7 linked regions of the Homo sapiens genome follow. The protein of the gene in region 7 interacts with the protein of the main gene of each other region in a pairwise test. Each region holds a gene or a part of one and is shown on either strand. Other genes may lie near its edges. The genes, in order: HINFP, CPT1A, KRTAP4-1, MAL, PLSCR1, FHL5 and NPDC1.

Region 1 (4,224 bases), on a different chromosome or scaffold from region 7:
AGTATTCCCAATTTTTTTTTTCTTTTACTGCAACCAGTCAGAAATACATCTTACTTTTTAGAGACAGGGCTTCATCTTGTCACCCAGGTTGGAGTCCAGTGTCATGATCATAGCTCACTGCAGCCTTCAACACTCAAGGGATCCTCCTGCCTCAACCTCCCGAGTAGTTAGGACTGCAGGCATGTACCACCACCACACGCCAATTTTTAAAAAAATTTTTTTTAGAGACAGGATCTTGCTTATGTTGCCCACTGATCTCAAACTCCTGGCCTCGAGCAATCCTCCTACCTTAGCCTCCTAAGTAGCTGGGACTATTGGCTTGTGCCACCAAGTCCAACCCCACTCCCACCTTCCAATTTTTTTTTTTTTTTTTGAGACGGAGTCTTGCTCTGTTGCCAGGTTGGAGTGCAATGGTTCGATCTCGGCTCACTGCAGCCTTTGCCTCCCAGGTTCAAGCAATTCTCCTGCCTCAGCCTCTTGTAGCTGGGACTACAGGCGCGCGCCACCACGCCCAACTAATTTTTGTACTTTTAGTAGAGATGGGGTTTCACCATGTTGGCCAGGATGGTCTCAATCTCTTGATCTCATGATCCGCCCACCTCGGCCTCCCAAAGTGCTGGGATTACAGGCGTGAGCCACCGCACCTGGCCCCATCTCTCACTTTTTAACCTTTGTCTGACTTATGTTTTAGGTATGCCTTTTATCAATAGCAAATAACTGGGATTTTAATAAAATCCAATCTGAAAACAATAACAATAGTGAACTGTATTCTATAGTACCTACTGTGTGTTAAGTATTGCTGGGTACTTTATTTTTTTTTTGAGATGGAGTCTCATTCTTGTTGCCCAGGCTGTAGTGCAGTGGTGCAATCTCGGCTCACTGCAACCTCTGCCTCCTCGGTTCAAGCGATTCTTCTGCCTCAGCCTCCCGAGTAGCTGGGATTACAGGTGCGTGCCACTACGCCCGTCTAATTTTTTTTTGTATTTTTAGTAGAGACAGGCTTTCACCATGTTAGCCAGGATGCCCCTGTTGGCCAGCCTGGTCTTGAACTCCTGACCTCAGGTGATCCGCCCGCCTCAGCCTCCCAAAGTGCTGGGATTATAGACGTGAGCCACCATGCCCGGCCAGTACTTTTTTAAACCTACATTAAAGCACTATTTCCCAAAGAGCCTATGAGATAGGCACTATTATTATTATTATTTATTATTATTATTTTTAGATGGAGTCTTGCTCTGTCGCCAGGCTGGAGTGTGGTGGTGCGATCTCAGCTCACTGCAACCTCCACCTCCCAGGTTCAAGCAATTCTACTGCCTCAGCCTCCCGAGTAGCTGGGATTACAGGCACATGCCACTATGCCCAGCTAATTTTTTTTTGTATTTTTAGTAGAGACGGGGTTTCACTGTGTTAGCCAGGATGGGATAGGCACTATTATTATACCCATTTTACAAATAAGGAAACGGAGGCACAGAGGAATAAAATAACTTGCCCAAAGTCACGGTACTAATAAGTGTGGCAGGATTTAAAAGAAAAAGGAAAAAAAAAACTTTTTTTCAGAGTAAGATGGAGTCTTACTCTGTTGCTCAGGCTAGAGTGCAATGGCATGATCTCGGCTAATTGCAACCTCCGCCTCCCGGGTTCAAGTGATTCTCCTGCTTCAGCCTCCCAAGTAGCTGAGATTACAGGTGCCCGCCACCACGCCCGGGTAATTTTTGTATTTTTAGTAGAGACAGGATTTCACCATATTGGCCAGGCTGGTCCCAAACTCCTGACCTTGTGATCTGCCTGCCTCGGCCTCCCAAAGTGTTGGGATTACAGGCGTGAGCCACTGCGCCCGACCAAAGCCACTTTTTTTTTAGAGACAGAGTCTTGCTATGTTACCAGGTTGATCTTAAACTCTTGGCCTCAAGTGATCCTCCTGCCTCAGCATGCTGAGCAGCTGGGACTATAAGCATAAGCCACTGCATCTGGCAGGAATACATTTTTCTTTTCTTTTTTTTTTTTTTTGTGGGAGTGCAGTGGCTCGATCTCCGCTCACTGCAAGGTCCGCCTCCCGGGTTCATGCCACTCTCCTGCCTCAGCCTCCCAAATAGCTGGGACTACAGGCGCCCACCACCAAGCCCAGCTAATTTTTTTTTGTATTTTTTAGTAGAGACGGGGTTTGACTGTGTTAGCCAGGATGGTCTCGATCTCCTGACCTCGTGATCTGTCTGCCTCGGCCTCCCAAAGTGCTGGGATTACAGGCGTGAGCCACCGCACCCGGCCCAAAATGTGGTTGATAGTTCACTGAACTGATTTCCTAACCCACTAGTGGGTCACAACACAGTCTGAAAAACTCTATTCTACAGGAAATATGGAGGCAGCTCTCCTTCTCCCACCCCAAATTCTGTTTTAAGTCTGATGACTATGAACCATAATTGATAGTTTCAAAATTCAAGTCATATTTATACAAAGGCAAAATTGGGGAATGATTATATTTTCTAAAGTATCTGTGTTTCAAAACAAGTTAACTTATATAAAGCGCTGAAAATACAGTGCTTAGGGATGCTAGAGAGATAGGAAATGGATTGGAAGAGTTGATGGGGCCTTCTTGGAGAAGGCAGATCTTGAGCAAAACATGAGGGGAAGGAGGAGTGGTGGTTTTACAAGGAGAAGTGGGAGGTGTCAGATCGAGAGGCAGCATCTTCATCAGGAACTGCAGAAACTCAAGTCAGAGGACTTGCGTGCCGGCCATTTCTGCTGTCTGTTTCTGGCATAGGCCTTGCACACACTCTCACCTCTGCCTAGACCACACTTCTTCACCTATTTACAGATACTCATCCATCGTACTTCAGAGTTCAACATGGGGACGTTTCTCAGAACACCATGTCAAATGACCTCTGTTTAATGCTTTTATAGCACCATGTATATCCCCGCTTTGTAACACTCATCACTGGTTGCAGTTTTATATTTATAGATCTGATTATTTGATGAATATGCTTTCTCCCTGACTGAAAGCTATGTGAGGGCAAGGAGTGGGACACTTTTTACTTGTTATAGTCCCTCTAACTGGCACACAATTTATGGTCATTAAATACTGGTATTTGCTAAATGAACCCTGGTAATTTGGTTAGAGTCCAGCCTCCTCACGAGTCCAGCCTCCTCACTCTCTGTTTAGTGCTGCAGGTGGAAGGTGACCTGAGCCTTGGAAAGTGTCAGACTCTTCCTTTTAAACCCCTTTCTACAGAGGAAGAATTCTCCTGCTTGTGGCAGGAATGTGGCTTTTGTTCTCTGGACAGTTCTGCTGACCTCATCCGCCATGTCTACTTCCACTGCTACCACACCAAGCTGAAACAGTGGGGGCTGCAGGCCTTGCAAAGCCAGGCTGACCTTGGCCCCTGCATCCTGGACTTCCAGAGCCGGAACGTCATCCCTGATATCCCTGACCACTTCCTGTGTCTGTGGGAGCACTGTGAGGTCAGCAGGCAGTGCCAGTAATTGGGGTGGAAGGAAGCTGGGGGTCTTAACTCTGATGCCTTGTCCCTTTCAGGGATGCCTTATATTTCCAAGATTCCTGCTAGTATCTCTCTTCCATTTCTTTTGCTCTTTTAAAATTTGTTTATTTTTTACACACAGGCTCTTGATCTGAAGCCCAGGCTAGAGTGCAGTGGTACAATCATAGCTCACTGTAACCTTGAACTCCTGGGCTCAAGCAATCCTCCCACCTCAGCCTCCCAAGTAGCTAGGACTACAGGCATGTACCACCATGCCCTGCTAACTTCTAAATTTTTTGTAGAGACAAGGTCTGGGTGTGTTGCCCAGGCCGGTCTCGAACTCTTGGCCTCAAGTGATTCTCCTGCCTCAGCCTCTCAAAGTGCTGGGATTACAGGGTTTAGCAACCGCACCCGGCCACTCCTCCATTTCTGTGCAGTGCCTTTCCTCAAAATTTCCCATCCCCATCAAGTTAATTTGGGAGAGAGCCAAGAATTCTTCGGGCACATAGGGGTGAGTCCCTCTACCCACCCTCAGTCCTCACCCCAAGTTGCCCCTGGCACAGAATTCCTTCGACAATCCTGAGTGGTTTTATCGGCATGTGGAAGCACACAGTCTGTGCTGTGAATACGAAGCAGTCGGCAAGGACAACCCGGTGGTGCTGTGTGGCTGGAAAGGTAGGGCTGCTTCTTAACTTGTGGCTTCTGGAGGAAACGCTGGGGTTCCTGAAGAGCTGGGACAGAAAGGGATAGGGGT
Region 2 (4,224 bases), on a different chromosome or scaffold from region 7:
ACCTAAGACATCATTTTAATTCTTAAAATTACCAGGTTATTTGAAAACCACAAACCCCTGTCCCCCTGCCTGCACCTGTGGATTGGCCTCTACCATTGTTTTTTTTTTTTTTTTTGAGACAGGGTCTTACTCTGTCACCCAGACTGGAGTGCAGTGGCACAATCATAGCTCACTGTAGCCTTGACCGCCCAGGCTCAAGACATTCTCCCACCCCAGCCTCCCAAGTAGCTGGGACTACAGGTGTGTGCCACCATGCCCAGCTAATTTTTGTATTTTTTGTAGAAACAAGGTTTCCCCATGTTGCCCAGGCTGGTCTTGAACTCCTGGGCACAGGGGATCTGCCTGCCTGGGCCTCCCAAAGTGCTGGGATTACAGATGGGAGCCACCACACTCAGCCTTTTTTTTTTTTTTTTTTTTTTAATAATTCGTTACTCTGAACTGTTTGACCTGTTCCGTGTTTGGCATGAGAAATTAAATGAAAGTTTTGTTTCCTTAACTCACCGGTCAGGTTCTTGTTTAAAGTTGCTAAATTCTAGGATCATCATCCGTAGACTTGACACAGAAAATACTGTGGTCACTTGTTGTGATGAGACTTGAGATCTTTTTCTTTTAAAGCAACAAGCCCCTTTGAGATTCACATTGACTATAAAGACCATCTTTTTGCAGTGTTTTAAATTTTCCTGCTGGCCTAATAAATGAAGTGGAATAAAATGACCTGAAAGTCACGGCGTGTGTGGGAGACAGGGCCCAGCTGCAGGCTGAGCACCTCGCTGTTCTTGATAGGGCATGGAGCCGGGTTTGTGTGTCTGAAATTAGAAATTAGTAGTGGCCAGGCGCGGTGGCTCACGCCTGTAATCCCAGCCCTTTGGGAGGCCGAGGCAGGCGGATCACGAGGTCAGGAGAACGAGACCATCCTGGCTAACACGGTGAAACCCCGTCTCTACTAAAAATACAAAAATTAGCCGGGCGTGGTGGCTGGCACCTGTAGTCCCAGCTACTCAGGAGGCTGAGGCAGGAGAATGGCGTGAACCCGGGAGGCAGAGCTTGCAGTGAGCCGAGATCACGCCACTGCACTCCAGCCTGGACGAAAGAGTGAGACTCCATCTCAAAAAAAAAAGAAAGAAATTAGTAGTAAACTTGTGAAGACATCATAATGTATGACCTTCTTTTTTCTTTAAACTTCTGTGAATGTTTTGAATTTTGACTTTTTTTTTTGAGATGGCGTCTTGTTCTGTCACCCAGGCTGGTGTGCAGTGGTGCGATTTCAGCTCACTGCCACCTCTGCCTCCCCGGTTCAAGTGATTCTCCTGCCTCAGCCTCCCGAGTAGCTGGGATTATAGGCACATGCCACCATGCCCGGATAATTTTTATATATATATAAACCTGACCTCAAGTGATCCACCCGCCTTGGCCTCTCAAAGTGCTGGGATTATGGCATGAGCCACCACGCCTGGCCTTGACGTTTCTTTTTATAATATTGTGTCTGTCTATTTTTCCCCCAAGAGATAAACAAATTCTGGTGCCAGTTTTTTCTTGCAAAGTCTTCGCACTCACTCTCCTCTCTGCCTGGAAGGCTTTTCCCCCTGGCTTCCCCTGGCTCCTGGCCCCGTCAGGTCTTCCTTAGGTCTCAGCTGACCTCACTTCCCCTAGGAATGGCACTGCCCTGCTACCCTCTCCCAAGACTAGGTTAGGGGCTCCTGTCTCATCTTCCTCTACCTCTTTTAATTGTCTTACTTCTGGTTGGAGTCTTGGCAAAACCTCCAGCCACTCCTTCAGCCAAGGGAGGTTTTCTATGTAGGAAAAAGGATAAAAAGGAAAAAAAAAAACATAGTGCTCTAGGCTTTAAGACACCAGTATGACCCTAGGACATTAATACCTGATAAAAAGCAGCCAATATTAAAAGGGCTTTTCACCACCACCAGGGTTCTTTGGCGATGTCGACAAAAGCTGAGAGAGCCTTTTAGCTACAGAGCGCATTGAAGATCAAGCTGCCTTCAGTGTCTCTGGACGTAGCAAGAAGGCACGCTTTAATAAATCTCTGCACAGCATAATAGCCCGGGCTTGTTATACCCCAGGCCAAGGACTTCCCGAGTCCTATATGCCTAAGAGCTGTTGTTTGGCAAAAGAAAAAGAGTCGGGACCATAGGCAGCTGGATCACACAGGGTACATTTATCAAGTAGAGAAATCTACTGGATATTTACAAGATCAGGCTTGTTTTTTAAAGTTCTCTGGATAAGGATAAAGGGATTTTATCTTAGACCAGGGTGGGCACGTAGAAGTAGTGGTGTTTAGTTGTTAGCGTCCAGCAGACAGGATGGCCTGACTCCAGGGACCCCTGGCTGGGGGCTTATGTGATCCATACACAGATGGGGACTGACCTAGTCTCACATGGGGGCCCAGTGCAGTCCCTTAAAGACAGATCTAGTCAAACTTGAGTCTGTTTGTTCTTGTTCTTGTTCTATTTTTATTTTTTATTTTTTGAGACAGGGTCTTGCTCTGCCACCCAGGCTGGAGGGCAGTGGTGCAATCTCAGCTCACTGCAACCTCCAACTCCTGGGTTCAAGTAATTTTCCCACCTCAGCCTCCCGAGTAGCTGGGACCACAGGTGTGCGCCACCACGCCCAGCTGATTTTTGTATTTTTTGTAGAGACGGGGTTTTGCCACATTGCCCAGGCTGGTCTCGAACTCCTGGCTTCAAACAATCTGCCTGCCTCAGCCTCCCAACATGCTGGGATTACTAACATGAGCCACCACACCCGGTCTTGCTCTTGATTTATTTCTGATGTTTCTGTGTCAGGCTCTTCTGGAGCTCTGACCCAGAGCAGGTGGAACCTGATCAAGTCTGTTCGTTCGCTGGCTCAGGTCAGCCTGGATTGTGACCCCCACGTATTAGCGGCACCTTCCACCCGCCCCGCCGCCTCGCCAGCCGACAGTCACCCCGACCTTGTGTTGTTGTTTTTACCTCCCTCACTAGAATGTAAGCTTCCTGAGCACAGGGATTCCTCTTTTAAAAAAACTTAATTTTTTTAGTTGAGATATAAGTCACATACCTTAAAATCCACCCTTTAAAAGTGTACAATTCAGTGGTTTTTAGTATATTCACGAGGTGCTTGTGCAACAGTCACTGCTTAGCCTCCCGAGTAGCTGGGATTACAGGCGTGCATCGCCACACCCACCTAATTTTTGTATTTTTGGTAGAGGCGGGGTTTCCCCTTGTTGGCCAGCTTGGTCTCGAACTCCTGACCTAAAGTGATCTACCCGCCTTGGCCTCCCAAAGTGCTAGGATTACAGTCGTGAGTCACAGAGCCCAGCCTAATTCTGTACTATTTTTATCACCTCCAAAAGAAATCCCTCATTCCTTTCTCCCCCAGGTTCCTGATGACCACTAATCTTTCTGTGTGTATGTATGTGCCTATTTTGGACATCTTATATAGATAGAATCATACAATATGTGGTCTTCTATGTCTGGCTTCTTTTTTCTTTTCTTTCGCTTTCTTTTCTTTCTTTTCTAGAGACAGGGTCTTGCTCTGTCGCTCAGGCTGGAGTGCAGTGGCACAGTCATGACTCATTGAAACCATGACCTCCTGGGCTCAGGTGATCTTCCCACCTCAGCCTCCTCAGTAACTGGGACTACAGCCATGTGCCACCACACCTGGCTAATTTTTAAAATTTCTTGTAGAGATAAGATCTCACTATGTTGCCCAGCTGGTTTGGAACTCCTGGCCTCCAGCAATCCTCCCACCTTGGCCTCCCAAAGTGCTGGGATTACTGAAGTGAGGCACCGCGCCTGCCTGCTTCTTTTCACTCAGCATAATGTTTTCAAGGTTCAGTACGTTGTAACACATACCTGGAATTCATTCCTTTCTAGGGCTGGATAATATCTCATTGTATGGATTGACCACACTTTGTTTATCTCTTCATCAGTTGATGGGCATTTGTGTTGTTTCCACTCTTTGGCTATTATGAATAATGCTGCTCTGAACATTCTGTACAAGTTTTTGTGTGAGCATCTATTCATTTCATTTCAGTGAGTATGTACCTAGGAGTGGAACTGCTGGGTCATACAGGTATATTTCACTTTTTAAGGAAGGGCAAGAATTCTTGTCTGTTTTGTTCACAAAACACAGTTCTTGTCTGCGCTGTCACCAGGGCTTGGATGCCGCTGATGCTACAGTGGTTCCAACCCATAGTAGGTGCCCAATAAACACCGTTGAATAAATTGG
Region 3 (3,472 bases), on a different chromosome or scaffold from region 7:
TTTTGCTCAAGTATATTTTTTTTTCATGTGGAAGTGACATCAGGCAGAATAAGCAAAGCCATGTGGCTACAGGAGACATATGGTTTGCTTGTCTGAATATGACCAAGTTTACCTGAGATACAAGAAAGCTGTAGAGTCTAAGCATATCCCGAGAGTGCATTCTTAGCTCACAGCTTAAAATTACAGCCTGAGTCCTTCTCTTTTACAACTCTATCATTGCCTACCATTCAAACCCTTACCCAACTCCTCCCTGACTCTTCCCCAAAGAGGATATTCCCTTGTCCTTGTGTGGCTCCATCTTTGACTAAGAGCTTTCTCATTTGCCTATGACTTTTAGTATAGTACCATTAACATAGAGGTGATGGGATGAGGCCAGTGAGGTTTAACTTCCACCAAATTTGGTCAACACCAACTGTTTCTTAGCTCATCTCAGTCTTGTCCTCATAAGAATGTAAACATTTTCCTATATTTTCCTCCTCTTCATTTCATGGGTCTGTGACCTGCACATCTTCCCTGTACCAACTTAACTCATTCTATTATTAAATGTGTGTATATGTATATTCCTAATGTCTTACTCTTCCCCAAGACAGAAAGTTCTCCTCTGATCAGTACTACCCAGCACAATCTATCTACTTTGCTCTTTCCTCTTATTTCCAAGATTAGACGGTGAGCTCCTTTTAGGAAGCTCCTGTGCCTCACATATCTTGATGTGATCTCCAGAGCCCAACAGTGCAATGAACATGACAGATGATCAATAATTTCATTGACTGAATAAGAAACTTTTGTTAGTTAAATACAGCGAGTTATCTTATTTTGAAAAATTTATGAAGTCCTTTCTATAATATAAGCATTACATTATATTTACAAAATCAGTTTTCTTTCCTGGTCGTGGTAACCCAAATTTGTCTTTATCTTGAGAGAAGTAATGCTAAAAAATAAACTGACAACTAATTCTCAAAAAAATTGAAAAAAGAGAAAAGAATTACTGATATTAAGATAATATTTATTGAAGAACAGTTAATATGTAATTTTGAAGGTCAAATCAAGCATAACAGTCAGAAACTTAGAGGCTTAGTCTAACTGCATCATGCATCTGAGGTCTGAATGCTGCTGGGAAGAGATCCATGGGAAAAATGAGTGGTATTAAATGTAGATGGATGCCCTTTCACCAGTTACTTAGTGGAATAACAGGATAATAAAGCTGATGGCCATTTAACACATGGACAAGTTGATATAAATGACACTTTCATATCATGGGATGGTGACTGGCTCATGGTTGATAGTCCAATATGAGGTTCAACAAGAGGATCCACAGCAGCTGGGGCGGCAGCAAGTTGCACGGCAGCAGGTGGTCTGACAGCAGAGTGGACGGCAGCAGCTGGACACACCACAGCTGGGGCGGCAGGTGGTCTGACAACAGAGTGGACGGCAGCAGCTGGACATACCACAGCTGGGGTGGCAGGTGGTCTGACAGCAGAGTGGGCGGCAGCAGCTGGACACACCACAGCTGGGGCGGCAGGTGGTCTGACAACAGACTGGGTGGCAGCAGCTGGGGCGACAGCAAGTGGTCTGGCAGCAGGTAGTCTGAGAGCAGGATGGGCGGCAGCAGCTGGATACAACACAGCTGGGGCAGCAACAGGTGGTCTGGCAGCAGCTGGGGCGGCAGCAGGTCTCTTGGCAGAGGCCTTGATCACAGCCCTGGTCAGAGCAGACAGAGCCACAACAAGAGTTAACCATGGTGTCAGAGGGTGGAGGTTCTAGGTAGGTTTCCAAGACAGTGAGTTTTTCGAATGTGGGAATCTCCTTATCCCATGTCCACTTTTATACTCAGCTGAGGAGCTGTTGTCACCACATAAAAGCTATTTCCTTGTTATTGTTTATCTTAATAGATAGGCAATTATCAAGTTAGCTAATTGTGGGAAAATATCTGTATAAAAGGTGGAATGCACTTTTATTCTTTCTCTGTGTTAGAGTTTAGCCAATCCAGTCTTTCCTCCTCCTCTTGTCTTCAGTTAATTTAGTGTGTCATTTAATTTCAAAGACTTGTAATCTTACTCATCCAGTCGATTGTCAGGTGACAGATCACTTGGAACTCAGCATTCTGTGTGTCATCCTGAAAACTGTGTGTCTCACAGCAGTCCTCAAATGGGATGATGTTTCTTGTTTTCTGAAGATTCTTCTGAGAAAAATAAACTGTGAAACAACTAGAAGAAAACAGCAGAAATTGTCTTAAAATATTAGAAGTGGAGTGGATTTTCTAATACAGAAAAACTTAACAACAATGAAGAAAAAGATTGAAAAAAATTTACAACAGAAAAAAACTCAAATGCCTGATTGAAAAACAAGAAGGCTAAAGAGTAAGCTGAAAATAAATAATAATACCTTAACCAATCTACAAATAAATGAGCTAATTTTCTTAATCCATGAATACCTCTTACAACCCAATGAGAAAAACAACAACAACAACAACCAAACAGAAAATTGAGTAAAGGATATTAACAGTGATTTCACTAAAAAAAGAAATTTAAGTGCCTTTTGAGCTTCTGAAAGATGTTTAGTCTCACTCATAATTTAAGGTATTTTAATTGAACAACTTATTCACTCATCAAACCATCTACCGAATACCTACTGTGTGCCAGGTTCTACTGCATGCTCTCGGGATATGGCAGTGAATACTTGCTATTTGTAATGACAAATGTAAAATATTTAAGTTTAAAAACTTTAATAAATTGGTGAAATTATAAAGACATTGACATTTTAATACACAGTTGGCAGGGATCTAAATTGAGGCAACTTCTTTAGATGGTAATTAACAGAATCTGAAATTTAACAGTATCTTAAATTAATTTAGCATATTTTGAAATGTGCGTGTGTTTTGATTGAGCCTTTTCACTTCTAGAAATGTATTCAACAGATGCACCTATACATACCTTCCAAGATGTAAGTTCAAGGGTATTCTTTGCAACATTGTTTGCAAGAATAAAGCCTGATTTTAAATTCTATTGTGTTTACGGAGGGGAAAGCCCTTGATGTAGGCAACACACACTAGTGCTCAGAGGCAGTGAAGCATCACTTTCTTTTTATCACCAAAGAAACCTCTTTGACCTATTCTTGCAATTTTTCTATAAGTGCAAGACGACATTAATTTTTAAAAAAAGAAATTAAGAATGTTATCTCTTTAGGCCATCCCTATCCCATGCAGACACCTACTTTCTATTTAGACTGAGTTATTCAGGAAGGAGGGAAGAGGGGATGGAAGGAAGGATACAAGAACATATTTAGAATATATTTTTATGGACATATTTTATGACTATTTGGGGTATATATAAAAATTATGAAAATTCAGTTCGTTAGGCATAAAATGGCATAAAAATATCCATTGTGTCTAAGTTGATAATGATTTTACTCAAATTCTCCATATCTTTGTTTACTTTTCTTCTTCAAATGACCGTTTTTGAAATAGTATGTTTAA
Region 4 (4,224 bases), on a different chromosome or scaffold from region 7:
CCGTTATGGAAAAGGCCACATAATCTGTTGAATCTTAAACTCAACTGTGGATGAAATCTACACACACATCTTATTCCATGGTGGTCTGGGCATTTTTATTTAATTGATTTTGCTCCCATTTTTGTAAGATGCACAGTGCATCCCACCGGCCCTGCCACGTGCCTTCAGGCAACCTAAGATCCATCAGCAGAGGACGCTTTCTGGTCAGAGATGCCCACATCTGATTCCTTAGGGACAACTTGGTTTTAATAAATCCAAAGTCTTCATTGCACTGATTTTTCTACCCAAATGCAATTCTCTCCTGATTGCTTCTCAGTCAAGCAGCTCAGAGAACACCTGTGAAGACAGCGGTATCTCTCACCCAGCAGGTGGGCAGCAGGTGCAGGGAGGTGGGGGGGTCAAGGTGCTATGTGAATTCAAACCACAGGGGACATAGGCCTGGGAGGGCAGCCCCATCCTCAGCCCCCCAGACACTTCTGTAGTACCTTGGAGACTTTTGGCTGCAAAGGAATCTCCACATAGGCCTGGAGTGCTTCGAGCCCAGTCCTCATCCAAGTGGGGAACATGTGGATGAGGCTGAGCTGATTCTTACTGGGTGGGGGTGGCGCTGGGGGAGATGAGGAGAAGGGAAAGAGAAGTGCAGAAAGTCCCCGCTGGGGTTTGTACACGCCTGTCCACAGTGAGGAACGGAGTTTGTACGTACCCATCCGCGGTGGGGAGCGGGTTTGTATGTGTCCATCCACGGCGAGGAGCGGGGCTGGGCTACTGAGGGGTGCTACTGGCCCCCATGTCTGCTCCTCTTTGACTGTATGGGGCTCACTGACCCTGGCGACATCAACTGGGGTGTATTCTGGATAACCACGGGACTGTACTTTCCTCATGCCCATCCTCAGCCATCCAAAGAGACAAGGCTGTCCTTGGTTACTCCATTCCAACTCCAAATCTGATCATCAGAACACTTCCTGGACTTGGGAATATAAACAGTTGAATCCAGAAAAAGAAATAATGAGCAAGAGAAAGAAAGAGAGAGAAAGAGAAAGGGAGAGAGAGAGAGAAAGAGAAAGGGAGAGAGAGAGAGAAAAGAAAGAGAGAGAGAGAAAGAGAGAGAAAGAAAGAGAGAAAGAGAAAGAAAGAAAGAGAAAAAAGAAAGAAAGAAAGAAGAAAGAAAGAAAGAAAAAGAAGGAAGGAAGGAGAGGGAGGGAGGGAAGAAGAAATGAAGGAAAGAGAGAGAGAGAAAGAAAGGAAGGGCAGGGCAGGGGACTACTGACAGTGTGGTTAATTTGTTTTGCCAAATAAAGACCAAAAAGATCTGCTGGTCACTACCATTGCATAAAGGAAAGGACATTTTAATATCAAAGCAAGTAGGAGGGCTAGAATATCAGAAGAAATAGCAGCTCTTCTCATGACAATACCAAATGGCATAAATCCTTTCTCAGAATGATGAATTACTTAACTTCCACCTACCTCAGTTTCCTCATCTGGCAAACAGGTCAGCATTGCTCAGAGGGTTACTGTGAGAATCACTGAGTTATTATTTGTAAAGTGCTTAGGATAGTGCCTGGAATGTAGGTCTGATATAAGTGTTTGTTAAATAAAAAAATTAAACCCATATTTAAAAAGTTACTCAGGCCAGGTGCAGTGGCTCACGCCTGTAATCCCAACCCTTTGGGAGGCTGAGGAGGGCAGATCACCTGAGGTCAGGAGTTCAAGACCAGCCTGGCCAACATGGTGAAACCCCGTCTCTACCAAAAATAGAAAAATTAGCTGGGCATGGTGGCATGCACCTGTAATCCCAGCTACTCAGGAAGCTGAGGCATGAGAATCACTTGAACCCAGGAGGCAGAGGTTGCAGTGAGCCACACGCCACTGTACTCACGCCTGGGTGACAGAGCAAGACTCTGTCTCAAGAAAAAAAAGTTTTAAAAAGTTAATCAGGGCAAGCGTGCCGGGGATTGGGATTGAGATCCAGCACAGGGCCCTGGGGGGACTAAAGATGCATTTTTGCAGAGGAAAATGCCTGCCCTGTTCTCTTTGCCTGCTTCCTGTGTTTTTGCACTCCAGTCACCCCATGTGACCGCTGGTCGGGGGCCCTTCCTGGGCTGGGGCTCTCCTCTAGGCCAAAACTCACCCCTCCTCCTCCCCCGCAGATCTTCGGGGGCCTGGTGTGGATCCTGGTGGCCTCCTCCCTGGTGCCCTGGCCCCTGGTCCAGGGCTGGGTGATGTTCGTGTCTGTGTTCTGCTTCGTGGCCACCACCACCTTGATCATCCTGTACATAATTGGAGCCCACGGTGGAGAGACTTCCTGGGTCACCTTGGTGAGTCCAGCCCAGGGTGGCTGCTGGTTGTAGGGGGGCGCAGGAAGTACTGGTCCCTGGCCCAGTAGGATGGGCTTTTCCAGTGCCAGGTGAGACTTCTCCGTAGATGTCACCCCACCATGTTCCAAGGCTGAGCCTGCCCAGGGCTCCTGGCAGCAGAATCAGGAGAGGCAGGGGCAGAGGCAAGGTCGCCGCTGCCAACCCTCACTGGACCTGTTCTGTGTTCTCCTGCATGACTGCCTTTCCATGGATAACCAGCTGCCCAGCCCCCACACCACCTGTACCCGCCAGGTGCCTGCCTGCCCCTCCCATCACCTGCAAGGGCTGTTTTCACCTCAAGGCAGCAGGGCCCCAGAGGCCGACCAAGGTGTTGGGCTCCAGAAATTGGCCCTGGCTCTGAGGGTCAGGCCATGCTTACTGTCCAGCTCCTCAGCCACTGCCTTCCAAGCAGGGCTGCCAGAGAGCACTGGGAAACAGAAGCGGCCTTTGGTCATTATTCTGTATAAATTCTGCTTTGAGACCCATGAAAAGGTAACTTTTACATGTAGGACACTTGCCTGTTACCTGCTGTAGGGGTGGTGGGGCCATTTGGCCAAGGCTGTCACTCTCAAAAGCTCTGCTACTTAGACTTTTGAAATCACTTCCAAATCACAACTACACAAAACCCTGTTTTAGTACCTTTTTGCTTTCATTTATTACTTTATTTTGAGTTGGGGGTCTCATTCTGTCACCCAGGCTGGAGTGCAGTGGCGCAATCTCATCTCACTGCAGCCTCAACCTCCCAGGCTCAAGTGATCGTCCTGCCACAGCCTCCTGAGTAGCTGGGACTACAGGCATGTGCCACCACACCCAGCTAAGATGTATTGTTTTGTGTAGAAATGGGGATCTAACTATGTTTCCCAGGCTGGTCTCAAGTCCTGGCCTCAAGAGATCCTCCTGCACCAATCTCCCAAAGCTCTAGGATTACAGTCATGAGCCACCACGCCCAGCCCTTTTTTGCTTTTAAATATACCAGGGGCCAAAAATAAGCAATGAAACAAAACAAAACAAAACAAAACAAAACGAAAGAAACAGCATGGTCCTCCCTCACCCTGCACTGGTCAGCGAGGCCACACCCAACCTGGACTGTGGCCATGCACGACACTTCTCAGATCCAGGACCAGCTTTTCCCTGGGACACCCCAAGCTGCTGGCCCTTCCTCCACCTCTCCCTTGACCCTTCCTCAGGGGAGACCAGTGTCCCATCCCCAGCAAAGTGCTCACTCTGGCCCCACAGCAGTGAAGTGAGACTCAGCACAGCAGGGCAGGCATGGGACCTCCGTGACAAGGTTGGGAGGGGTGGGATTCAAAGGAAGTGGGGGGAGAGGCAAGGGGCGGGGGTGGAGGGGACCTCAGCTCTGCATCTGGGCCCCGTCTCTCTCTCCCCATCCCTCTGACACCCCGTCTGCCCCATAGGACGCAGCCTACCACTGCACCGCTGCCCTCTTTTACCTCAGCGCCTCAGTCCTGGAGGCCCTGGCCACCATCACGATGCAAGACGGCTTCACCTACAGGCACTACCATGAAAACATTGCTGCCGTGGTGAGTCCGGGCACCTGGGGCTGTGTCCACAGCGGGCGGCTCCGTGGCTGGCAGGGTGTGTGTGGAGGCTGCCTAGGCCCTTGGTCTGTTTTCAGTTCACTAACTTTTGAGTGAGGTCAAACCTTGCCTTCATGCCTGGAGCAGGAAAGCCCCCGAGAAGGGCAGTGTCATGTTGTGCCCAAGACTCCGCTTAGTCGTCCGGCCAGGGCTGCATGCCCCAGGCCTGCGTGGGCTTTGCAGAGGGCAGATGTGTGAGGGGATGCGGCTGCCCAGCGCCCTGTCCGAGTGCTCCCTGAACAATCTTATTTAACATCCATGGCAACCCTACA
Region 5 (4,224 bases), on a different chromosome or scaffold from region 7:
TGAGGTGTCAAAGTTTCCATTGTCAACTCTATGGAAAATTCTTCAAGTGACTATTTCTCAATTCTTTCCATGAGAGTACCTTGATATCATCATTCTAGATAAATAGAAGAAAAGTTAATTTATTACATGGAATGGATGCTTTAAGGTATCCATCAAGAAAGACTGCCAGATGAAACATAAATTTTTTAGTATCAAATACAAGGATTACACAATGTTTTTCCAGTGTTTTCATTTATTTACTAAAAATAAAATATATGCCAGCCAAACTTCTGTTAATATTGTTCCTTGAATGAGAAATTACTTTTCACTTCTCTGGATGTAGGACAGAGATTCCATCCCTTACATGAAGAACTGCTATTATGCATACCCTTACATAAAATTTTTATACATGCATATTATGCACACATATACATACACACATTATATAATCCCCTTATAAGAGCCTTTTTAAAGTTTCTATATCACATCCTCCTTAGAACTGCAAATCTCTGTCATTAGATTATGAAGTCAATGGGGGAAAGGATTCATCTTTATATAGCTAAAGTCTGACGGAGGAATAAAATACCATGTGATTAAAGAAGGCAGGCAGATCACATAAATGAATGACACTGGATATTGAAAAACCTCAGTAAGGGGTGGAGACAGTGGTAGAGTTCCCATGTCATTATTACAAGGGGCAGCCCCACACATCTTTAGTAGATTTTTACCCTTTTGTTGGAAAGGTGGGCCCAGTTAACCCAATTTTCTGATTTTCCAAGAGAAACAAGAAATCAAGATTAAGTTATAAAACCTTCTGATTTTTAAACATTTGCAATGAAAAAATTTGGATTGTAAAAGTAGACCATCTGTTGTTGAAGAGCTACTCTAATGAAATTCTACAATGTATTACAGTAAATATACAAATATTAATATGTTGCAGCTTCTAGTGACCTAATTTAATATAGGGAAAAGGAGAGACCACAGAGAAGCATAACTGGGTAGTACATATTATACTAATTTTCTCAAAACTATCTTTGCATAATTGGGCTTCTTGTAGGAATTCAAAGATGTCAGACATTCTGAACATGGCCTTGAGCATTGGCAGATGATATTTCAGATTTAAGAAGGATCCATATGCTTTGGCAATCAGACTTAGATGGCAAGGTTAACGTTCTGTTTAAAATGGATAATATACAGTGTCATCACATAGAAACCACCACGTTTAAGTGAGGGATGATTTGCTTATTTTTATTTGACTACATAGGTCTGCTTCTTTTTTTTCCATTTCTCATGACCAACAGTGACCTTTAATCAGAGTGATAACTACCACTCTGCCCAAAGTTAAATAAATGAGAAAATCATCTTGCTATTGAGACATTGGCACACAACACTTATTTAATGCATTTATAATGTCCTGCAAAATTACATTCTTCTTATATTAGGAAAGCAAATCTTATAAACATTATGACATCTCTTACCTCAAAATCAACATCTCCACAACAGCTGCACACAACACATGGACCACTTATTTTTAGTACATCCTCTCTTTTCTCATTTTGAATTGTAAACTTTGGTAGACATGGGTGCCAAGTCTGAATAACATAACCTATTGGTACACCAGGAGGAGCTTGGATTTCTATCTACAAAGGCAAAATAATATATGTAAATGTAATAATCATAATGCCTAGGTTCGATGAAAGGTTCAATGACAGGGCAGAAATTCTTGCTGAACTATTTTACAAAGTGCCCTGGTAATTGATCACAGACCTCCTGAAGGCAGCAGGGACAACAACAGCTGCTACATCTTAGTGGTCTCTCCAGAGTTATGACTTCTTGACCCATATTATCAATAATCCTCAAGGTAAAAGGTCTAGATGGCCCACAGCAATTTCGGGTACAGCAATCAGTATCTTCCGCTGCAAAGTAAACCCTCTGTCCAAAGCTGTTCTTAATTTCATATTTGTTATTAGTTTCAAAACCTGTTAAAACTAAAAACATAAAAGACGAAATCATAATCACCTCTATGTTAAAAATATTGAATTTATCCAGATATTATAATATCTAGCTATGCCAGTTTTTGATGATACCCCAAGTGGCATAAGGAGGAGAAGAAATGATGTTTAGAGATGATCCAGACAGAGAAAAATGGCAAAAAAAAGGAGAGATTACCAATGTATAGAGAAATTAAGTCCTTATGCCGTGGGGAAAAGAGAGATCAGATTGTTACCATGTCTGTGTAGAAAGAAGTAGACATAAGAGACTCCATTTTGTTCTGTACTAAGAAAAATTTTTCTGCCTTGAGATGCTGTTAATCTGTAACCCTACCCCCCACCCTGTGCTCCCTGAAACATGTGCTGTGTCAATTTAGGGTTAAATGGATTAAGGGCTGTGCAGGATGTGCTTTGTTAAACAAATGCTTGAAGGCAGCATGCTTGTTAAGAGTCATCACCACTCCCTAATCTCAAGTACCCAGGGACACAAAACACTGTGGAAGGCCACAGGGACCTCTGCCTAGGAAAGCCAGGTATTGTCCAAGGTTTCTCCCCATGTGATAGTCTGAAATATGGCCTCCTGGGAAGGGAAAGACCTGACCGTCCACCAGTCCGACACCCGTAAAGGGTCTGCACTGAGGGGGATTAGTAAAAGAGGAAGGAACGCGTCTTTGCAGTTGAGATAAGAGGAAGGTATCTGTCTCCTGCTCGTCCCTGGGCAATGGAACGTCTAGGTGTAAAGCCCAATTGTATATTCCATCTACTGAGATAGGGGAAAACTGCCTTAGGGCTGGAGGTGGGACGTGCTGGCAGCAATACTGCTCTTTAAGGCATTGAGATGTTTATGTATATGCACATCAAAAGCACAGCACCTTTTTCTTTACCTTTTTATGATGCAGAGACATTTGTTCACGTGTTTACATGCTGACCTTCTCCCCACTATTATCCTATTGTCCTGCCACATCCCCCTCTCCGGGAAACGCCCGATAATGATCAATAAATACTAAGGGAACTCAGAGGCCGGTGCTGGCGCGGGTCCTCCGTATGCTGAATGCCAGTCCCCTGGGCCCATTTTTCTTTCTCTATACTTTGTCTCTGTGTCTTTTCTTTTCCAAGTCTCTCGTTCCGCCTAACAAGAAACACCCACAAGTGTGGAGGGGCAACCCATCCCTTCATTATGTGAGACACTGGAAACAAGTTATATTTTCCTAATTCCATAAATGTCTGTCAGAAGAGAGACTTTTCTGCTGAGAGTTGGGGCAATGCTGTGGGTGGGCACGGTGGTGCTAGGTGTATAGATAAAATGTCCACTAATGCAGGATAGTTTATGTGTAATGTGGAGGGGAATATAAGAGGATTGCTGTTTATGTGCTATGAAATTTTATATTAAATCAATTGGTTTGAGACTGTCTTATAAACCTTACTTATGTCTTATTTTTTTGCAATGCTTTTGAAAGAAGGCAATGTACACGCATAAAAACCGAGGGAGTAAAAATGAAAGATGAATTAGAATGTCACATTGGACCCAGGGCATCCTTATTCAACTCAACAGTAGTTGTTCAGAAGTGGGAGGTGGGTATTAGACAAACGTGTTCGGCAACCAAGGCTTCAACTCACAGAATATCTAGACCGTGGGAATCCTAAGTGAACTCTGCACCTTTGCTGGGCTAATCTATCTTCATGAGGGAAACAGATGGCTGCAAAATGCTGACACTCACATACTTTGTATCAAGGGCTTTCCATATCTAACCATACATTGGAAACCTCTCCATATTTAAAGCCAGAAAGGAGCAATAACTGTCCCATTTGTACATAGTCCTCAGTAACTGGGGTCATAGATGTCAGAAGCCTGGCTAAAATAATGAGTGATTAAAATAAATATATGGAGGAAAAGTCACTCTATAATGCCTATGTGGAAAGACTCTGAGTCGGATAAAGACGGCCTTCACAAGTCTTACCACCATGAACTCCTTTAAGTGTCCTTGGTGGGACACAGACAGACCCTGTACTCTGCATTTATAGGAACAACGTCTGATTTCAACATCTGAAATAGTCAAATGTTTGATGAGAAAAAAGTTAAGCTGATTTTGAGAGGACATTCATTATCTAATTAATTGTTACATTAAGTAGCTTAATCTCAAAAATCTCCAGCTTATTTGTAAAACAACATTGGTTTACATAACCTTTAAGTTTCTTTTCATTTACTTTAAAAATGTAAACAAATTGTTTATATTTTTATTGTCTTCTGTGTTTT
Region 6 (4,224 bases), on a different chromosome or scaffold from region 7:
TTCTGTTCTCACCCTACCCAACTCCCTGATGTTGCTTTTACAAAACAGAATTGAATAAGAAGTGAATTTCTTCTTTCCAGAGGCCAGGCGCGGTGGCTCACGCCTGTAATCCCAGCACTTCGGGAGGCCGAGGTGAGCGGATCTTGAGGTCAGGAGATTGAGACCATCCTGGCCAACACGGTAAAATCCCATATCTACTAAAAATACAAAAATTAGCCAGGCACGGTGGCATGAGCCTGTAGTCCCAGCTACTCAGGAGGCTGAGGCAGGAGAATGGCTTGAACCCGGGAAGTAGAGGTTGCAGTGAGCCGAGATCACACCACAGCACTCCAGCCTGGGCAATAGAGCAGGACTCTGTCTCAAAAAACAAAACAAAACAAAAAATTAAGAAATATGGTCTATATTGTAAGGCATTTTCTGTGGATCCAGGCCTGTTATGTAATTAGGACTGGGGTGGGAGAAGGACCGTCTTGTCTTATATTTAGACTTCTGATCTGATCACTAAATAAGTTACAGGTATTTTGATGTTGTCATGTTTAAAGTGTCATTTAAAATAAACAATTGAAATATTATCAATTTGGTAATCCCTTTTGTGGTTTTATATGTTTTATATATTCATTTTATAATACACTAAAAGCCTCACAAAATGGCAGTAGACTGCAGTTCCTAACCCCTGAGGGGCCGTGTTTCATGATGCTATTATACACATCTAAAACTAAAATAAATATTAATGAAAACGACGTTTTCCATATTAAGTGAAGAGAGTTAAAGGTACATATTTTATTTCTATAAAGTGACAAACACTTGATCGCTGTAAATGTGAATACAACTTTTATTTTTAAACCTTTCAAGGGAATTAGATCTATTTTCCTGCTGTTTCCAAGCCTTCGGTAACCCTCTGAGTGTGTTTGTATTCACTAGGAAGGAACATTTCTGTGGAATTAATCAAATGGAGAATTCAATGTTCCTTTTAGATAATTTTGGCCATGTTCCATTGCGAACTTTCTAGTCTGCATTTCATCTCTTTCCTGGGAAAAGACCCACATATTCCAAATCCTCTGCCTTTTCTCTACTTGTTAGTGAAGAACAATATAGCAAAACTGCTATGTACAGAATTAATAATCATGTGCATTCAGCAAGGCTCTCTGCTGGGAATTTCATCACTAGAATAAGGCAAAACGCATGAGAATAAGAGTTCAAATGTAGTCAGTACAAACTAGTATCAAAAACTCTGTTGTATTATCGTTAATTGCTCCTCTGATTTTGCTAAAATTAAAAGAAAAATTATGTGGGGGGAGAATTAGAAAATATTCAAAGCTCCTAATATATTCCAGTAAACCCTGAGATGACAAATCTCATTTTCCAAGGAAAAGCAGTGCTAATTTTTTTTTGTAACAACAAAGAATTCATGTTCAATGCCTAATTAAAACCTGGAAATCTATATGCGTTGTTTCTTTTTTTTTTTTTTTTTTTTTTTTTTTTTTTTTTTTTTGAGACGGAGTCTGGCTCTGTCGCCCAGGCTGGAGTGCAGTGGCACAATCTCGGCTCACTGCAAGCTCCGCCTCCCGGGTTCACGCCATTCTTCTGCCTCAGCCTCCCGAGTAGCTGGGACTACAGGCTGTGCATTGTTTCTTAATGGCTTTCCAAATTTACAAAACAATCAGAGTCCTTATCTATCACTGGCTTTATGTTTCATATCAGCTTTTTTATTCATCTTACAGAATGCATTTTGCCTTGCAGATGAATTCTAGCTATTTTATCCATAGCTATAATGGAATAGCTGCTGCTATTATTTATGCTCTATACATGTTACTTTGGCCCTAAAGCCTGAAGGAACCCATTGTTGTTTTCTACCACTGATGATTTTATCTGCACTTCTGCATCTGGGCAATTGTTCACAATAGTCACAAAGACCTAGCACTTGGTCTGAGAATCCTACCTGCTGAGGAGTTTTATTTGGCCAGTTTGGTAAAGGACATTTAAATGAAGATATCTAAAGCTAGCAGAAAACAGAGATTTTGGAGTCATCAGCACATTTGGGATGGTGGAAGCCACAGCCAAGGAGGGGATGTAGTACACGAAGACCTCAGGGTAAATGTGCAGAGCCCTTATTAGGTATTCAGTAAAGACTTGAGGAGTAAAAGAATGAACTAGAAAATGACAATGTACTGATTATTAATTTATATTTGAGTAAAAAAGACTGTTATTTCCATCAAAATCTGCCTCTAGAATTTTCCAGCAAGAAAGTAAGTGATGATAGTTATTAAAAGCCCTAGCAACAGTTTATATCCTTGAGGTAAAACCATCCTGTTTCAACAGATACCATATTCTCATTGAATTCCACATTAGCTTATGATAAACACAAGATGTTTTTCATAATCTAGATGCAGGTTTTATGCATTTTTTTTTAGCAAAACATACAGGGAACTGCCAAGATGGGAGAGTAATCTTTCCTAAATCACTCCAAATGTCACCATGACTATAAGCATACTTTCCTAAATTGGGGGATTTTTGCTTAAGAAAATATAAGTTCATTCAAATGCTTCACTCACATTATATTAAGGTTTCATCATTTATCCTATAAACAAAATTCTGCTTTTATATACATTAATCACTTTGTCATTCATAGGATCAAACCAAAATGACAACTGCTCACTTTTACTGTCAATACTGCACAGCATCACTTCTTGGGAAGAAATATGTACTAAAGGATGACAGTCCATACTGTGTTACATGTTATGATCGTGTATTTTCTAACTATTGCGAGGAATGCAAAAAACCAATTGAATCTGATTCTAAGGTAAGTCTCACCTCAATTTACAGAATTACTGCCTATGAACAGCAAACAAGTGGGTTGGAGTGCCTCTTTTCATTTAGTGTTGACTTTCAACACTATTTCTCTGCTACTGGATATATAAGGATCTTAAAAGTTACCAGCAGTCAAGCTCCAGCCACTACACTTAGCACTATGAAATACAACATATGCTTAATCCTCACATGATCTTCTAAGGTAGCTGAGAATGCTAAAGATTAAAGGGGTTAAGCTATTTGTCCAAAGTTACACAGCTAGAATTTTCCTGCTGTTTCCAAGCTCTCAGTAACCTTCTGGGTGTGTTTGTTATTTCTGGAATGACAAGGGTATAAATAAATGCATAAAGAATTGAAGTTGAAAGGATTCAAAATCTGTTTTCTGATGTAAAATCAGCTTCATTTCTTACTAAACCCTATTGATACCTCTCACACCTACCACCCCTTCCTCCGACATGCTTATTCTTTCTTTCTTTCTTTCTTTCTTCTTTTCTTCCTTCCATCCTCCGATTATTTTCCTCTCTCTTTCTCTCTCTCTCTCTCTCTCTCTCTGTCTCTTTCTTCCCTCTTTCTGCCTTTGTTTTACTTAGGTGATGTTATTTTTTGTCTGTTTAGTTACATCTCAAAGAGTAATAGAACATTGCACCCTAAAATTTTTAAAAATCATTCCATGAAAAACCTCTATTATAGTTTATAAAAAGAATATAGGCAAATTTTGAAGACACAGCAGAGAATGTATTTGTTTTTTCCCAGCTGCCTTAAGTGACCCACCAAGAAAGCCCTGGGCTCTAGCTCTTAATTACCCCAGAGAGTCTCCTCTCTATGGGTAACAGTTTCAGTAACAACTTTCCCTCACGCTACTAGCACAACCTACTGACATGAGAGTCCCAGGAGTGTTCAGTTTTGTTTCATAAAATGGCCTGTATTGTCACAACCACATTTAATTAACTTTTATTTACTGTCTCAAAGGATCTTTGTTACAAAGACCGGCACTGGCATGAAGGATGCTTCAAGTGCACCAAATGCAATCACTCTTTGGTGGAAAAGCCTTTTGCTGCCAAGGATGAGCGCCTGCTGTGCACGGAGTGCTATTCTAACGAGTGCTCCTCCAAGTGCTTCCACTGCAAGAGGACCATCATGCCTGGTAGGGTCTCAAGGGGGCTCCTGTCTCTAACTGAAGCTGTGATGCTTTTCATTAAGTCCCAGCACATGAGGAGTGCAGCAGCTCCCAAAACCCTGGTTTTGAGAAAGATATCTTTCTTACTCTCTCAATCTTCTTCCGTGTACTTTAGAAATAAAAAGATTATTCATTCATTATCCTTGAACAGGTAAATTACAGTGTTCTGTGTATTTTCATATAGTCTAATTCATAGAAACATTTCAAACCAGAATCTTACCCATAAAATAAAGACAAAA
Region 7 (4,939 bases):
CGGCCTCCTGAGGCCCTCGGGTGCCACCTGGCCCCTGACTGCAGCCCCTGGTGTGGTGGCTTTGGGAGTGACCTGCCTGGGTTCTGTGTCTGAGGCCAGTGAGGTCAGCAGACTCCATCTTAGGTGTCCTCGGTGCCTGGGGGACAAGCCAGAGGCTGGAGGAGCAGCATCCCTTCCAGGCTGCACACTTGTCAGTGCCGGGTTCTGGGGAGAGCCGCACGGGAAGGAGAGGTCGCTGGCGGCATCGTTTGCTGCTCCCCAGAGACAGACCTGGGCCCTTCCCTCTGGGACTCCCAATCTGGACGGGGTTCCTGGCTTGCTGTGGGGCATGTTGAGGCCGGAGGCTGGGCTTGTGGGGCTGCACGGCCCTGCCCAGGAGAACTCAGCACTGCCTGGACGGCGAGACTCAGCTTCTGAGCTGAGGGCTCTATCAGGCCTGGAAGTGGACCCTGGGGAGGGGTGGGGCAGGGTAGTTCTGATAAGTCCTAGGACTGTTCGCTTCCGGGTTCTGAGCCCTGGCGTCAGGGAGGAAGGGCATGTCCAGAACAATGGCCAGAACCAGGCCCGGCCAGCTCGGGGGGTGACGGGGGCGGGTGGCTGGGGCAGCGCTGCCGTGTGCAGGGGCCGAGCCCTGCGGGGCCGTGAGCCGGCCCTGCCTTCTGCTTCCTTCCCAGATGTAGCCGCCTGTCCCGGGAGCCTGGACTGTGCCCTGAAGAGGCGGGCAAGGTGTCCTCCTGGTGCACATGCCTGTGGGCCCTGCCTTCAGCCCTTCCAGGAGGACCAGCAAGGGCTCTGTGTGCCCAGGATGCGCCGGCCTCCAGGTACGAGAGCAAAGGGGGAAGTCGATGGGGGGATGTCCCTGCATGAACCTCTCCCTGTAAGAAGCGGCCGGCTGGGCGCGGTGGCTCATGCCTGTAATCCCAGCACTGTGGGAGGCCCAGGCTGTTGGATCTCATGAGGTCAGGAGTTCAAGACCAGCCTGGCCAACATGGTGAAACCCCGTCTCTACTAAAAATACAAAGTAGCCGGGTGTGGTGGCACACACCTGTAGTCCCAGCTACTCAGGAGGCTGAGGCAGGAGAATTGCTTTAACCCGGGAGGCGGAGCTTGCAGTGAGCCGATTCACCACTGCACTCCAGCCTGGGCGACAGTGCGAGACTCTGTCTCAAAAAAAAAAAAAAAAAAAAAGAAGGCCGGGAGCAGTGGCTCACGCCTGTAATCCCAGCACTTTGGGAGGCCGAGGCGGGCACATCATAAGGTCAGGAGATCGAGACCATCCTGGCTAACACGGTGAAACCCCATCTGTACTAAAAATACAAAAACAAAATTAGCCGGGCGTGGCGGCGGGCGCCTGTAGTCCCAGCTACTCGGGAAGCTAAGGCAGGAGAATGGCGTGAACCCGGGAGGCAGAGCTTGCAGTGAGCCGAGATCGCGCCACTGCACTCCAGCCTGGGCGGCAGAGCGAGACTCCGCCTCAAAAAAAAAAAAGCAGCAGCCTGCAGCCTCAATGCCCAGGCCTGTGCCAGGTGGTCTTGGGGCCCCTGGACCTTGTGGGGTGTTGGGTCCAAGGCCTGGGAGATCCTCATTCACTCTCCACGAAGCCTCCCATCCTTTCCAAATGGAGGTGGGCCCAGGCCTGGGGCAGTCAGGCCCTCCCAGGAGAAGGGCTGCACGATGTGAAATGCTGGGATGGCCACGGGAGAGGAAGGGCCCATTCTCCCCGGGCCTGGGCTCTGCAGGGTCTGCCCAGAAGCCCTCCAGGCCCCCACTTCCCCGTCCCCAGGCAGCTTGCTCTTTTCCACCACTCACTGTCCTGTCCGCCTGTTGGCAAATGTTGAAGGGTGCCAGCACTGGCTGGGTGCTGGGGATGCCCCGCTCGCCAGCCTGAGCCGCATCTGTCGGGATGGCCAGTCACTGAGTGACTTCAGGTGTGGTGAGGGCTTTGCTCAGAGGTGCTGGGGGTGGGAGCAGCAGCGGCTTCCTGGAGGAGGTGTTGAGAGGAGCACCGAGAAGTGGCTGTAAGGGTCTGTGTGGATGCACCTCCTGCCAACCTGGGAGCGTCCACCCAGACTGTGCAGCCCACAGTGGGTACCGGTGGAGCCCTGCCACCAGCCCCACCCCTGACAGCTGCCCCCGTTCTCCCAATGACCTGGGGAGGGGTCCCGGGTGCTTGGCTTCCTTCGGCTTCCCCCCACTCCTTGGGGAGTCCCTGCCCCTCTACCCGAGAAGGTGCTTGGAGGTGGGGAAGCAGAAGGGGCTGTGCTGGCCAGCCCTTTATGGACATGGGTTGGGGCGAGAGACCCCACTCCTTCCTCCCCGTGCCCGGTCTTTGGACGTTTCCCTAGCGCCTCCTCCCTTGCCCTGCCTCCACTTTCCGGGAAGCACTGCCCCTCACAGGAAGCGCCCGCGCTGTCACCATGGCAATCTGGGAGGGAGAGGGCCTCCAGGCGTGTACCCAGTCCTCAGGCTCCTGGGAGGAACCTGCCAGAAGCGGGGAGGCCGGGCCTGGGGCTACCTCCTGGACGGACCCCTCCACCTGATGGCCCCTCACCCTCCCCAGGCGGGGGCCGGCCCCAGCCCAGACTGGAAGATGAGATTGACTTCCTGGCCCAGGAGCTTGCCCGGAAGGAGTCTGGACACTCAACTCCGCCCCTACCCAAGGACCGACAGCGGCTCCCGGAGCCTGGTGAGACCCCCGCTTCCCCTGCCCCACGGCCCTGTCCCTAGCCCAGTGCTCTCATTCTAACCTGTCCTCTCTCGCAGCCACCCTGGGCTTCTCGGCACGGGGGCAGGGGCTGGAGCTGGGCCTCCCCTCCACTCCAGGAACCCCCACGCCCACGCCCCACACCTCCCTGGGCTCCCCTGTGTCATCCGACCCGGTGCACATGTCGCCCCTGGAGCCCCGGGGAGGGCAAGGCGACGGCCTCGCCCTTGGTAGGTCTTGGTCGGGGGTGGGCAGGGGCAGCAGGGCGCCCTGCAGAAGGCCGCCCTCACACGCCCCCTCCTGCAGTGCTGATCCTGGCGTTCTGTGTGGCCGGTGCAGCCGCCCTCTCCGTAGCCTCCCTCTGCTGGTGCAGGTGAGCCAGTGGCCGCGGGCAGGGCAGGGAGGGTGCCACACGCTCAGAGGTCTCAGGCCCCACTCCCCACAGGCTGCAGCGTGAGATCCGCCTGACTCAGAAGGCCGACTACGCCACTGCGAAGGCCCCTGGCTCACCTGCAGCTCCCCGGATCTCGGTGTGTGGCCCCCTTCAGCCCTGAGGCTCCCGCCCAACTCTGGCCGCCAACTGACCCTCGCCTCCTCCTTCCCACAGCCTGGGGACCAGCGGCTGGCACAGAGCGCGGAGATGTACCACTACCAGCACCAACGGCAACAGATGCTGTGCCTGGAGCGGTGAGTGGCCGCCCCGGCACTGCCACCCCCACCCACCCACCCCCCATCCCCACCTCCACCTCCATTTCCACCTCCCCTGGCCAACTTTACCCCAGGCCCTGCCACCCTCACCTGCACGCTAACCTTCACCTCCCCCGCCGCCCTGCACCCTCACCTCCCCTGGCCAACTTCACCCTGGGCTGTGCTCCCCTGCCACCCCAGGGCTGAGGTGGGCTGAGTGCCCACTTCCAGACTGGGCCACTGGCACCTCGAGGGCATGGGGAGGACCCAGCGATCCCCCCCCACCCAGGCATAAAGAGCCACCCAAGGAGCTGGACACGGCCTCCTCGGATGAGGAGAATGAGGACGGAGACTTCACGGTGTACGAGTGCCCGGGCCTGGCCCCGGTGAGTGCCTCAGGGTGCAGGGAGGGGCGAACCATCTCCTGGGGTTCCCTCCCAGCAAGTATCCCCCCAGCCCACCCACTGCCCAGCCTGACACCCACATTCGCAGACCGGGGAAATGGAGGTGCGCAACCCTCTGTTCGACCACGCCGCACTGTCCGCGCCCCTGCCGGCCCCCAGCTCACCGCCTGCACTGCCATGACCTGGAGGCAGACAGACGCCCACCTGCTCCCCGACCTCGAGGCCCCCGGGGAGGGGCAGGGCCTGGAGCTTCCCACTAAAAACATGTTTTGATGCTGTGTGCTTTTGGCTGGGCCTCGGGCTCCAGGCCCTGGGACCCCTTGCCAGGGAGACCCCCGAACCTTTGTGCCAGGACACCTCCTGGTCCCCTGCACCTCTCCTGTTCGGTTTAGACCCCCAAACTGGAGGGGGCATGGAGAACCGTAGAGCGCAGGAACGGGTGGGTAATTCTAGAGACAAAAGCCAATTAAAGTCCATTTCAGACCTGCGGCTTCTGCCTGTGTTGCCAGCTTGGGTTAATCTTCCACCGCCTCATCTCCCATTTGGGGCCCTGGTAGACGGACCCCTGAGTGGGGGGCCTGGGGTCTGCTCTTGCACCCCCAGAGGGAGGAGGCCTTTCTGTTCGCTCATTAGGAGGACCTTCCCATCCCGTGGAGCTGGAGGAGAGGCCACGGGATCATCCCCACCCTCCTCAGCCAGGCCTCACCCCTGCAGACCCTTCTACGCAGGTGGGAGAGGGGAAGGGTGTAGTGTAGGGCTGGGCCAGCCCAGGGTTGGCTCTGCGGCCCGGAAGACCCCATCCTGTGTGATAAAGAGGGCTGGAGCAGGTGATAGTCCACACGCACCTGGATGTGGGTGCCCACCACCTCCAGGCAGAAGGAAAACAATGCAGACATTGAGTCTGGGTTTCTCATGGGGACCACGGCCGCCAGGCCCTGCAGCACACGGAGGAGGGATGGCAGGCAGAGGTACCTGTGTGATACCAGCTATGCAGAGCCAGGTGGACCCAGGGGGCCAGGTGAGGGGTGTGATGGGAGGGGCCTGGACGCCTGGAGCTGGGACTTGGCCACTCCTAAATTTGGAGCAAGAAGGCCCCGAGGGAGGAAGGGGAATCATGTGGTCAAAAGTGCCCAGATCAGGCCAG

Evidence for each region.
Region 1: the proteins of NPDC1 (region 7) and HINFP interact in a two-hybrid assay, tested with the Homo sapiens proteins (one study listed by BioGRID).
Region 2: the proteins of NPDC1 (region 7) and CPT1A interact in a two-hybrid assay, tested with the Homo sapiens proteins (one large-scale study listed by BioGRID and IntAct).
Region 3: the proteins of NPDC1 (region 7) and KRTAP4-1 interact in binary tests that used the Homo sapiens proteins (3 or more experiments, as listed by UniProt).
Region 4: the proteins of NPDC1 (region 7) and MAL interact in binary tests that used the Homo sapiens proteins (3 or more experiments, as listed by UniProt).
Region 5: the proteins of NPDC1 (region 7) and PLSCR1 interact in a two-hybrid assay, tested with the Homo sapiens proteins (one large-scale study listed by BioGRID and IntAct).
Region 6: the proteins of NPDC1 (region 7) and FHL5 interact in binary tests that used the Homo sapiens proteins (3 or more experiments, as listed by UniProt).

What each region holds. Positions count from the first base shown.
Region 1 is NC_000011.10:119,127,502-119,131,725, forward strand, and holds part of HINFP (histone H4 transcription factor), read left to right. Parts: intron 1-849; exon of another isoform or gene 850-947; intron 948-3,154; coding exon of another isoform or gene 3,155-3,223; coding exon 3,224-3,453; intron 3,454-4,033; coding exon 4,034-4,145; intron 4,146-4,224. UniProt on the Homo sapiens protein: Transcriptional repressor that binds to the consensus sequence 5'-CGGACGTT-3' and to the RB1 promoter. Transcriptional activator that promotes histone H4 gene transcription at the G1/S phase transition in conjunction with NPAT.
Region 2 is NC_000011.10:68,775,687-68,779,910, reverse strand, and holds part of CPT1A (carnitine O-palmitoyltransferase 1, liver isoform), read left to right. Parts: intron 1-4,224. UniProt on the Homo sapiens protein: Catalyzes the transfer of the acyl group of long-chain fatty acid-CoA conjugates onto carnitine, an essential step for the mitochondrial uptake of long-chain fatty acids and their subsequent beta-oxidation in the mitochondrion.
Region 3 is NC_000017.11:41,183,118-41,186,589, forward strand, and holds KRTAP4-1 (keratin-associated protein 4-1), read right to left. Parts: upstream 1,795-3,472; 5' UTR 1,738-1,794; coding exon 1,297-1,737; 3' UTR 983-1,296; downstream 1-982. UniProt on the Homo sapiens protein: In the hair cortex, hair keratin intermediate filaments are embedded in an interfilamentous matrix, consisting of hair keratin-associated proteins (KRTAP), which are essential for the formation of a rigid and resistant hair shaft through their extensive disulfide bond cross-linking with abundant cysteine residues of hair keratins.
Region 4 is NC_000002.12:95,045,812-95,050,035, forward strand, and holds part of MAL (myelin and lymphocyte protein), read left to right. Parts: intron 1-73; exon of another isoform or gene 74-336; intron 337-703; exon of another isoform or gene 704-967; intron 968-1,464; exon of another isoform or gene 1,465-2,147; coding exon 2,148-2,315; intron 2,316-3,769; coding exon 3,770-3,895; intron 3,896-4,224. UniProt on the Homo sapiens protein: May be involved in vesicular trafficking from the Golgi apparatus to the cell membrane. Plays a role in the maintenance of the myelin sheath, and in axon-glia and glia-glia interactions.
Region 5 is NC_000003.12:146,520,087-146,524,310, forward strand, and holds part of PLSCR1 (phospholipid scramblase 1), read right to left. Parts: intron 1,968-4,224; coding exon 1,747-1,967; intron 1,620-1,746; coding exon 1,458-1,619; intron 1-1,457. UniProt on the Homo sapiens protein: Catalyzes calcium-induced ATP-independent rapid bidirectional and non-specific movement of phospholipids (lipid scrambling or lipid flip-flop) between the inner and outer leaflet of the plasma membrane resulting in collapse of the phospholipid asymmetry which leads to phosphatidylserine externalization on the cell surface.
Region 6 is NC_000006.12:96,600,973-96,605,196, forward strand, and holds part of FHL5 (four and a half LIM domains protein 5), read left to right. Parts: intron 1-80; exon of another isoform or gene 81-180; intron 181-2,629; 5' UTR 2,630-2,641; coding exon 2,642-2,800; intron 2,801-3,777; coding exon 3,778-3,952; intron 3,953-4,224. UniProt on the Homo sapiens protein: May be involved in the regulation of spermatogenesis. Stimulates CREM transcriptional activity in a phosphorylation-independent manner.
Region 7 is NC_000009.12:137,038,809-137,043,747, reverse strand, and holds the end of NPDC1 (neural proliferation differentiation and control protein 1 precursor), read left to right. Parts: intron 1-674; coding exon 675-821; intron 822-2,560; coding exon 2,561-2,686; intron 2,687-2,763; coding exon 2,764-2,934; intron 2,935-3,010; coding exon 3,011-3,077; intron 3,078-3,149; coding exon 3,150-3,234; intron 3,235-3,311; coding exon 3,312-3,391; intron 3,392-3,680; coding exon 3,681-3,777; intron 3,778-3,883; coding exon 3,884-3,976; 3' UTR 3,977-4,285; downstream 4,286-4,939. UniProt on the Homo sapiens protein: Suppresses oncogenic transformation in neural and non-neural cells and down-regulates neural cell proliferation. Might be involved in transcriptional regulation.